Regions from separate parts of the Homo sapiens genome. Here region 2 is linked to region 1. The links come from fine-mapping of genetic effects on gene expression. Tissue or cell type: sun-exposed skin. Region 1 holds a variant in brackets; the other region holds the start of a gene. All regions are shown on one strand. Distances are between the middles of the regions. Region 1 overlaps KCNK1 (potassium two pore domain channel subfamily K member 1). Region 2 holds the start of KCNK1 (potassium two pore domain channel subfamily K member 1).

The links.
Region 2: KCNK1 starts here. The variant in region 1 is fine-mapped to the expression of KCNK1 in sun-exposed skin (GTEx, PIP above 0.99). The same link has a PIP of 0.9 or more in unexposed skin.

Annotation. Positions count from the first base shown.
Region 1 is chr1:233,652,710-233,658,087 of GRCh38, forward strand. All of the region lies in intron 1 of KCNK1 (potassium two pore domain channel subfamily K member 1), which reads left to right. Among named protein-coding and RNA genes, the nearest start is that of MIR4427, 31 kb to the left of the region's middle. The variant G/A (reference allele first, on the strand shown) is at 3,014.
Region 2 is chr1:233,610,808-233,616,185 of GRCh38, forward strand. It overlaps KCNK1 (potassium two pore domain channel subfamily K member 1), which reads left to right and starts at 3,299. Exons shown (of 3, transcript NM_002245.4): 1 at 3,299-3,719. The coding sequence starts at 3,365. RefSeq lists enhancers at 2,425-3,077, 4,266-4,325 and silencers at 2,866-2,965, 3,326-3,395, 3,736-3,795.

The DNA.
Region 1 (5,378 bases):
AATGCTTTCAAGCACGTCTCCCCTGTAACTATCCAGTACACTGGATGCTTCCTGGTTTGGTTACTAGAACAAGCTCCTCAGGGTTGGGTTGGGACTGTTTCTAGGCCATGCTGGTGGACATGCCTTTGCAGAGCTTGGCTCTGGTCACACACTCCTTCTGTATTATCTTTTTATTCTGATGCTTTGACATCTTGGGTTTTGCTGACACTGAAGGAACTGCCCTTCCCAGGGCTGGCCAATTCCTAAGGACAGTAAAGGACTCACCTGTGAGCATGCCTTTCCTATGCAAACTGAACACTCTGGAGCCCCATCCCCCAGCCACCTTCTTTATCAGGCTTTCACCTTCTGAGCCACTAATTCTCTGCCTCAGTCACCCCAGAGCCTGGTACCAGACAACTGGGACAACTCCTATATTCCAAAGCTTGCTGAAATGATTCAAACTAGCTAACCCTAAACCTGCTTATGCTGCTTCACCCATTTATTCCTGCAGAAACCACAGTAAAGTTCCCCCCTTGATTCCTTTGTGTCCTGACCAACTGATGTTTCCCTAGGTGCCCCCACAGCATGGCATGGCATGCCCCACTTTTGAAACCTGAACAAGCTGTCTTTTCAATTACAGATATCCCCTGGTCTGTTGGCCTCACTATACCTGAATAATAATAAAACTTACATTTTGAAACCTCTTCCCTGACTGATGGTTAATTGTTGTGTCAATTTGACTGGGCTAGAGGATGCCCAGGTAGCTGGTAAAACATTACATCTGGGTGCATCTGTGAGGGTGTTTCTGGAAGAGATTAGCATTTGAATCAGTAGACTGAGTAGAGAAGATCCATCCTCACCAAGGTGGGTAGGCGTTATCTAATTCATGAAGGGCCTGAATAGAACAAAAAGGGAGAGAAAGGGCTATTTGTCTTTTGTTGAGTTGAGACTTCTCTCTTCTCCTGACCTTGGACTGGGAGTTATGTCATTGGCCTCCATGGTTCTCAGGCCTTCAAACTTGGGCAGAATGGTACCACCGGCTTTCCTGGTTCTTCTGCTTGCAGACGGCATGCCAAGGGACTTGCTGGCTTCCGTAATTGGATAAGCCAATTCCCATAATAAATCTCTTCTTATATATCTATATATATCCTATTGCTTCTGTTTCTTCAGAGAGTCCTGACAAATATAAAGATTGATACCAAGAAGTGGGAGTGCTTCTAACGAATGTGGAAGTGGCTTTGGAAATGGGTAATGGGTAGAAACTGGAAAGAGTTCGGAGGTGCACACTAGAAAAAGCCTACATTGCTGTGAATTGACCTTTAAAGGTGATTCTGGTGAAGGCTCAGAAAGAAAAGAGGAGAGCTATAAAGAAAGCCTTAATCCTCCTAGAAAATACCTAAGTGATCATGAACAGAACGTTGGCAGAAATATGGGTAATAAAGGCCAGTCTGATAAGGTCTCAGAGGGAAATGAGGACCATGTTATTGGACAATGGAGAAAAAGCCATCGGGGTGGGGGGGAAAGGGAAGGGAGAGCATCAGGACAAATACCTAATGCATGCAGGGCTTAAAACTTAGATGACAGGTTGATAGATGCAGTAAACCACATGTATACCTGTGTAACAAACCTGCACGTTCAGCACATATATCCCAGAACTTAAAGTAAAAGAAAACAAATTTTTTTAAAAAGCGTCAGAGAACTTGGCTGAATTGTGCCTGTATTCTAGTGTTTTGCAGAAGGTAGAGCGGTGAACACTGAAATTACATATTTGGATAAGGAAATTTCTAGGCAAAGTGTGAAAGTTGTGGCTTGGCTTCTCTTGACAGCCTACATTAAAATGTGAAAAGAGAGAAAAGATTTAAAGACAGAATTGTTAATCAAAGAGAAGCAGCACTTAAAGATTTGGAAAATTCTCACCCTAGCCATATTATGAAGAATGAGATAACGGGTACAGTGGTTCATGCCTGTAGTCCTAACTGTTAGAGAAGTGGAGGCAGGAGGATCCCTTAAACCCAGGAGTTTGAGACTTGTCTGAGTAACATAGTGAGAGTCCATCTCTTAAAAAAGAATAAATAAATAAATGAGAAGGCACATTGGGAAAGAACACCAAGGGTGCGGCCAAATGACCATCTGATAAGGAGATTAGTCAACCAAGTGGAACCTGTTGCTCAAGGTGATTCAGAAGTAATTGGGGCTGCCACCTCCATCACAGCTCCAATGTGCAAAAGCTTGAGCAGGCAAGCATGGGACCTCCACAGAGAGCCCTTACTAGAGCAACATCCAGGATAGCCGAGTGGTAGGACCACCCCAGCAGCCCCAGACCTGTAGAGTCATAGACACGATTCTAGCTCTTGGAGCCACAAGGGCACAGAGCAACCTTTGGGGAGGGCCACCACGCCCGTGGGTTGGGAAAGCAGGACCACAGCCCTAGTGGGCCTGGGGGACAGAGCATTGAGCCAAAGAAGATTATTCTCCAGACAAAATTTTGGACTTTGCTAGGGACCTATCCTTTCTTCTTTTCTTTCTTTCTATTCTTTTCTTTCTTTTGAAATGGAAATGTCTATTCTATGCCTGTCCCACCATTGTATTTTGGAAGCCCCTTGACTTGTTTAATTTCACAGGCTCACAGCTGGAGGGGAAATTGCTTCAGAATGAATCATACCTTGCGTCTCACCCATATATGATGTAGGTGCTGTTTAAATGAGACTTTGGACTACAGACCTTCAAGTAGATACTGGAATGAGTTAAGATTTTTGGAACCATTGGAATGGACTGAATGCATTTTGCGTGTGAGAAGGACATGAAATTTTGGGATGCCAGGGGTAGAATGTTATGGTCTGAGTGTTTGTGTCTCTCCCAAATTTATATGTTGAAATCCTAACCCCCACCCTCTCAAGGTGATGGTATCAGGAGGTAGAGCCTTTGGGAGGTGATTAGGTTATGAGGGTGGAGGCCTCGTGAATGAGACTCGTGCCTTTATAAAAGAGACATAAGAGGGACTCCTTCCTCCTTCTGCCTTGTGAGATTAGAGTGA[G/A]AAGTCTATGAGGAAGCAGCCCTCACCAGACACTGAATCTGCTGGTGCCTTGATCAGAGACTTCCCAGCCACTAAAACTGTGAGAAATACATTTCTGTTGTTTATAAGCCTGTGGTATTCTTTTGTAGCAGCTTGAACAGACTAAGATACCCTTGGATGAGGAGCAACTGAGGTAAAGTGGGAAAAAAAAAAAACGGCTCCAATGCCAAGGGCATACTGGACAGCTCTTTAACTTATGCTTGGTGGTTGCTTCTCATCATTTTCAGTTAATCGTAAAGCATTCTACTTTTGTGGATTTCAAGTCCCTAGGAAAGGATGCTGAAGGAAACGACAGTTTTGTGAGACCATCAGTAATTGTAATGTTGACACCTCTGCATTCAAATGGGTTACAGGATTAAACAAGTGTCATCCAAAGGACCATCAGGATGGCTAGATAACAGAAAAGAGAGTTTCACTGGCAATACTGGTTTACAAACCTGGAAGAGAGAGTCTCCGGTGTGAACTGAAAATGCTCTCTCTGAAGAACAAAGAGAAGGTTAGAGGTTTTATAAAAAGGAGAAATGTTGCATATTGCTCTTTGAGAAGTTTCATTGGCACCAGTAAGGTTTTGAGGAGCTGGCAGGCTTCAACTGATAAGTGAGGGTGGTGCGTAAACCCAGTCTGAGAGTTGCAGCAGGTCGTCTCAGTAGTCGTTAGACAAAACTGGTTTCAGGTTACTGCAGGCAGTGTCAGCTGCCAGGCCTGCAGAAAATTATGTTTTTTGGAGCAATGTTCTTCACCCTGAGTGCTTTTTCCCCTTGGCTTATTGATTCTTTGTTGGGTATGACAAGAATGACTCATTTCATGTGATCAGCTTTCACACAAGGGTGACAAAGCTTCAATTATTTATTTCTTTATTATTTATTTATTTAATTTGGGACAGAGTCTCTCGTCGTCTAGGCTGGAGTGCAGTGGTGCATGATCATGGCTCACTGCAGCCTCAACCTCCCAGCCTCAATTGATCCTCCCACCTCAGCCTCCCGAATAGCTGGGACTACTGGCACATGCCACCATGCCCAGCTAATTTATTTAGTTTTTGTATAGACAGAGCTCACTATGTTGACTAGGGTGATCTTGAGCTCCTGGCCTCAAGCAATCCTCTCACCTCAGTCTCCCAAAGTGCTGGGATTACAGGTGTGAGTCACCATGCCCAGCCCAAAGCTTCGTTTTAAGTCTCTTTTATTTACTTTTTTTGGTCCTAGTCATAACACATTGTAAATATACTCTGTCAGAGAATTAGATAGCTTGTTGTTTTTTAAGTCTTTTCTAATTAATCTGTTCATGTAATTTAGTAAGAAAATATTAAAGGGAAATCTTGCCCGAGAGATGGCCAGTACTGAGTAAGAAGCCCATTTGGTTTGTGTCTGGGAGGATGGGCAGTGAGGATGAGTGAGGATGAGTTTAATTTAGCTTGGTGAGAGGGGGACAAATCCACCTTTTCACGAGAGCTGCTTTCTCATCGCTTTTTGTCCCCCTTCATCCACAACCCCCGCAGCCAAGGCAGTGTCAGTAAATTTTGGGATGGAAAAGCCTTAGGTAGGATTCTTATGTTTTCGAAATGTGACTGATTGGAATTGGGGGAAAGCTGTATTAAAATTGGATATGTGGTAAAAGCTGGATATGTGGTTATTACCCATATCCAGTAGTGGGTCATGTTCCTGTGCTACCATGATCTGCCCGCAGTAACCTAGCAAGACATCAAATCACAGTGTGCAGTAGATGGTACCGTTGAACAAGCCAAGCCATATTGTCTGCAGGGATCTGAGATGATAAAGAGATTATTACAGAATTTGTTTTCATAAGGAACTGTGTAATTATGATGATTAGCCAAAGAAATAAGAAAGAAAGAAAGAGAGAAAAAGAAAGAAAAGAAAAGAAAGAAAAAAGAAAAAGGAAAGACGAAAGAAAAGAAAGAAAGAGAAAGAAAAGAAAGAAAGAGAAATAAAGAAAGAAAGAGAGAGAGAGAGAAAGACAGCCTGGTCTGTTACCTATGCTGTCCTACTATAGCATTTAATATCTTACTGCAAATTTTACTAAGTTATAACTTAAAAGTGTTAATTTTTTTTTTTATCACTTTGACAAACTTAGCCTCCTACAGCAGAAGGTGACTGATCAAAAGCTGGACTGTCAACCAGGTACTCACCAGCTTAGAGAGAATGGAGAAAAGGAGTATAAAGAATTTGAATAATTGTATGTAACATACGTGTTTCTTTTGAAATTTCAGTTTTAGGAAGCAAGGCCTGATGAGATGATCTTCATTTGTGAGAGTATGCAGAGGGTGGTGTGAAAAGACATGGCAGGGATTCGTATTTTTAAAATGGATGGA
Region 2 (5,378 bases), 42 kb before region 1:
CAGCAGGTGGATGCCCTGGTTTGAGAGTTGAAGATGGCTACACTCATCTATCTGGTGTCTTGGCGAGAATGATAAGGAAGCTGGGCTCACTGGGCTGTCCCTTGAAACACCTACATGTGGCCTCTCCAGCATGACAGCCTCAAGTTAATCAGACATCTTATGTGATGGCTCAGGGCTCCAAGAGGGGATTGTTCCAGTGAACAAAGTTGGAGGCTGCTGGTCTTTTATCATCTAACCTTGGAAATTACCTAGTATCATCTCTTATGTACTCTGTCAGTTGAAGTAGTCACAAGTTTCAAGGATAGGGGACAGAAACCCTACCCTTTGGTGAGGGACTGTCAAAGAATTTGCAACCATATTTCAAAGCTGCCATATACATGTTGGGGGAACCAGCCCCACACCAACCGGCGGGTACCCCGAGTCCAGCGGAGACACAGGAGTTAGAAAGAGGCAGAATAAGCATTTAAAAGGTGGGTCCAGGGGACCGTTGTGTAGGAGGCTTGCTCATGGCCCAGAGCTCTTGGGCTCCAACTAATTTATTGTTTTACAAGCTCTTTGTTCTTAGGGCAGATGGGAGGGGGAGGAAGGGATGAGGAAAAGGATTAATCAGTGAAGGAGAACTTGTGAGTCATTCAATAAGATGTACAGCAGTGGTGGTCTCTGTGAATTTCCTTGAGCAAAGGCGTGTGTCTAAACTACTTAAGATTGCGTGTGTCTAAACTACTTAAGATCTTTAACTTATTGGGACTGAAAGGGGTGGGAGCGGGTTTCAGGAGGAGCCAAGATGTTTGATTATACTCCACTGCTTCCAGGGCGTGTTATCTCCCTGAGCAGCCTGTGGAATGCCCCCGAGCAGTTATGCTCTCAGGGCATAAAGACATGAAGGCAATAAGGAGACTTTTCTCCTCAGAGGTCACCCATGGCTCCCCATGGGTGTCTCACACAGGGGAGAACAACTCAACTGGCACTCCAGAAACTCTTTTTCCCACAATACATGTATGTATATTTGAGTGTGATGATATAACCACACCTGCACCTGCAGTTCATCACAAGTACCCCACACAATCTGGCATTCAAAGGGTTGTATGTCTTGGGAAGAGGAACTCACATCCTGTTGGGGAATCACAGGTTTCATGAGTGAGCCAGGTCCTGAAGGATATAAACTGTGTTACAGATGGAGATGGAGGAGGAACTGTCCAAGCAGAAGGAATCAGGTGAGCAGAGACATAGGGAGAAAAATGATCATGACAGGCAGGAGGAGAATTCTGAGGGTCTGCTACGGCCGGGGGTAGCCTCATGAATGAAGAGGTCTCTGAACAGGGCAAATAGGCAAAGATCAAGGATAGGATAGGGCAAGCAAGGGTTACAGAGCAGGACAGGGAAGGACATTGTAGGATGGAGACTTGAGGGAGAAGGAGGAATTCAAGTTCTAAAAGAGTAGGGCACTTGCTGATGGGGAAGGGTTCCCAGAGGCGGAAGGACTGAGAGTGGTAAGTGCTTCCTTTCACCTTGAAAATAAGGAGGTACATTTTTTCCTTAGGGGTAAGAGCAAAGGGAAGAAATGGATTACCGATGAGTAAATTTTGAAGTACAGAGAAGTAAAGTGGAGGGCTGGCTTCAATCTTTTGAGTAACGTAGGAGGTAAGGCTATTGACTAAAAGTGAAAAATCACTGATATATATGTTAGACATTTGCACAAGTTTCTATGAAAATACAAAATATGACTTGTTTAGAGAACTTCAGTAAAGTAGGCAAATGTTCAGCTAGGTGTTGGAATGATTAATTGTACAATTCAGTTTTGTGTATTTTAAATGTTTTTCCTGATTACAAAAATAATATATATCCACTGTAGAAAATTTGAAAAATATTAAAAGGTACAAGAAAGGAAAGTCATCTATATACTCTACTATTACCCAAAGACAACTGCAAGGAGATAGTTTTATTCCTATGCAGTTGATTAATAATGCAGATGTCATTTTATTTTGTAACAAAATACAAATATTTTACATATTTGAGATTCTACACAGTTTTGCTTCAATAGTCTTTAGACACAACTTTAATGTGTTTAATGTCTATATGGTGTCCATGCTGTAGAGATGCCATAACTTATTTAACCATTCTCTATTTTGGAATATTTAGATTGTTCTGAGTCTTCATTATTTCATCTATACCGTGTGTGTGTGTGTGTGTGTGTGTGTGTCCCACATGTGTATGCACTATATTATACAACTACATGTATGTATATATAGATACCGTCTATGACCAGTCTTTGTAAGTAAGTGCCTCTCTGATTGTTTTTTCTTAGGACATATCACTGAATCAGAACAAATAAACCCTTTCAAGGTTCTTGAGACGTGTCGCTAAATTGCCTTTCCAGAAAGGGTGTACCAATTTTTATTTTCATCCACAAGCAGGCGGCTCGCTGACCCTCGCCCACATTTTTGTCACTTTAAAAAGAAGTGACAGTTGGGAAAGCTCAGTTTCTTCTGGCAGTTGACACATTTGGGATGTTTTTTCACCAAAAAACCTAAGGTCATGTTTTAGAAAATTCGAACTCAGAAATAGGACTTCTCTGAGACTCTCCTTTTCCCTCAAGTCCTTTTTGTGAGGGGGATGGGTGGGAGAGAGGAGACTGATTCAAGGAGCCTTCCAACTCTGATGTTCTGGTATTTTCACCGTCATTACTGGCACCAGATTGCTCAATCCTTCGACCAATAAGACAAAGAAGGAAAGTACTTCAGCGCTTGCTGTTTTGTAATACTGGCTTTGATTGGGAGAAAATAAGTGGGAAACAAGAGTAGCTTGGACAGGGGGCTTGGACGGCCAGCGCATTGACCAGAAGCGGCCCACACTACACGCGCGCGAACACACACACACACACACGCACACGCCGCGCGCGGTCAGCTAGAGTTTGGCTACTGGACCCAGGAAGGGAGGGAGCGGGAGGAGCTGGTGGCTGTCGGGTCGGGGTCTGGGCGCCACCGAGCGCCCGCCCCACCTCTGGAGTGCGCAGAAGGCGGTGCGTCCCGGGCCCCGGCAGCCCAGCCCAGGCGCTCTGGCCAAGTTTGCGCGCGGTCTCCGCTGACTCTCGGGTTACCTGAGCCGGCAACCACGTCAGCGCCACATCATCTGGGCTTTTTATATTGCAAGGAAACAGGAAAAGAAGGAAGAAAAACATCGCCCGAGAGAGCCAATCGCAGGAAGACGGCGCTGCCCGGAGGAGCGGGGCGGGCGGGCGCGCGGGGGAGCGGGCGGCGGGCGGGAGCCAGGCCCGGGCGGGGGCGGGGGCGGCGGGGCCAGAAGAGGCGGCGGGCCGCGCTCCGGCCGGTCTGCGGCGTTGGCCTTGGCGGCGGCGGTGGAGAAGATGCTGCAGTCCCTGGCCGGCAGCTCGTGCGTGCGCCTGGTGGAGCGGCACCGCTCGGCCTGGTGCTTCGGCTTCCTGGTGCTGGGCTACTTGCTCTACCTGGTCTTCGGCGCAGTGGTCTTCTCCTCGGTGGAGCTGCCCTATGAGGACCTGCTGCGCCAGGAGCTGCGCAAGCTGAAGCGACGCTTCTTGGAGGAGCACGAGTGCCTGTCTGAGCAGCAGCTGGAGCAGTTCCTGGGCCGGGTGCTGGAGGCCAGCAACTACGGCGTGTCGGTGCTCAGCAACGCCTCGGGCAACTGGAACTGGGACTTCACCTCCGCGCTCTTCTTCGCCAGCACCGTGCTCTCCACCACAGGTAGGGTATCCTGCGCGCCCCCTGGCCGCCCCGGCCACCTCGCCCACAACCCACACACCCCGGCCCCGGCGCCCCGGGCCCCTCTAACCCTCCCACCCCACCCCCCACCTTTCGCCATCCCGGCTCCTCCAGCCCGCCTCCCCTCACTGTCCTCCCGACCCTCCGACCTTCCCCTTACTGGCGTCCCCGGCCTCTGCCTGGGTGACTCGGGAGGGCAAGCCCTGCGGAGCCGGAAGCCAGAGAGGTGACTCCAGACGTGACTTGGTTGTTGCCGTCCGTAACTCTGGGGAAGTGGTCCCTAACTTCGGCCTGGGTGGCTGCAGGTGCTTCCTCCCCTTGAGTTCTTTTTTCGCAACCCACTAAGCCAAACTGTCGGGTTTGAATGTGTAGCAGCACCTGGCCGCCGTGCGGCAAGGCAGCGGGATGATGGAAACTCACCACCTTCCTCCCGCACCCATCCCAGAGGCCGAGGCTGCAGTCTGGTAATAATACCTTCTAAAGGGTCACCTTCCGGAGTGTGCCGTCCCTTTGGACCATGCACAGATATTCCAGCTCTTTTGTACCTTGGAGGCAGTTTTGGGGGTAGCCGAGTGACATCACTCTGCTCTTCCCAGGTGACCTCTGGGCGGACAGGCCGATCCGGTTTCTTTTCAGAGTAGGAGGAAGGGTGAGGGAGAGTAAAGGAACCATAGGATTGCCTAAGATCTGACTTAATTGGGGCACCCTGATTCAGCAGTTCCTTCAACTTGAGGTGTGCGAGGCTCCCCATAAACTTCGAAGCGCCACGTCCCCGTACGACTCACCCGCGGGGCGCCCGGCCATGGAGGAGCCTCCTCAGGTGAAAGATGAGGCCGGGCGCATGCCCCAGGGCTCGGTCACTGTGCCAGATCAGATGAATGAAGGCCGAATTTCCCCAGCCGGACCTAGTAAGGCACATACCCAGAGTGGAGATATCAATTGGTATTTGGACAGTGGGAGGAATCTGAAAGAGCGTTCAGCACAGTCCCTTCTTTTGATCTATGAGATCCAATCTTTGAAATAATCCATCTCGTCATGCACAAGGTCACACACTTCCTAGTTACCAGTGTCGTCCTGGAACCTGGGCCTTGTGATTTCTCTGCCAGGACCACTTTGTAACCCCCCACCCTCAACCTTTACAGGTGAATCACATCCCTTTGTGTGACTCCCAACTCTTCCTTCCTCCCCACCCCCCTCCACCACCCAAATTATTGTGTATAATTCCCTTTGGGCTATATCTTGTTGACTATCTTGGTAATTACTTGGTAATGAGTAATAATACACTATTCATGTAGATCACATGAAACAATTATTCAGAGGTCTGGGGTGAATTACTAAACTGATGTAAATCTACCCTGAAATAAACAGAAGTGGAATTCTAGCTTGTATTGTGAGATCTAAAAAACTGTTAAATGTAGCGCTAGACAAGACAGACCTGTTATCTCACTTTCCAAAGAATGCCTGTTCCCTTGCCAATACAATTTAATTTTTCTTTCCATAACTCTGCCTCCATTGTCTTTACCTAGTCCTCTGTTCCTCAGATCATTTAGGAGTCACCATGCCTTTCCTTTGGAGTATATTTGTGCTATATTGAGAGTCATTCATTCTTCCCAGAAGTAAGTGTTTCCATGGGGCTACAGA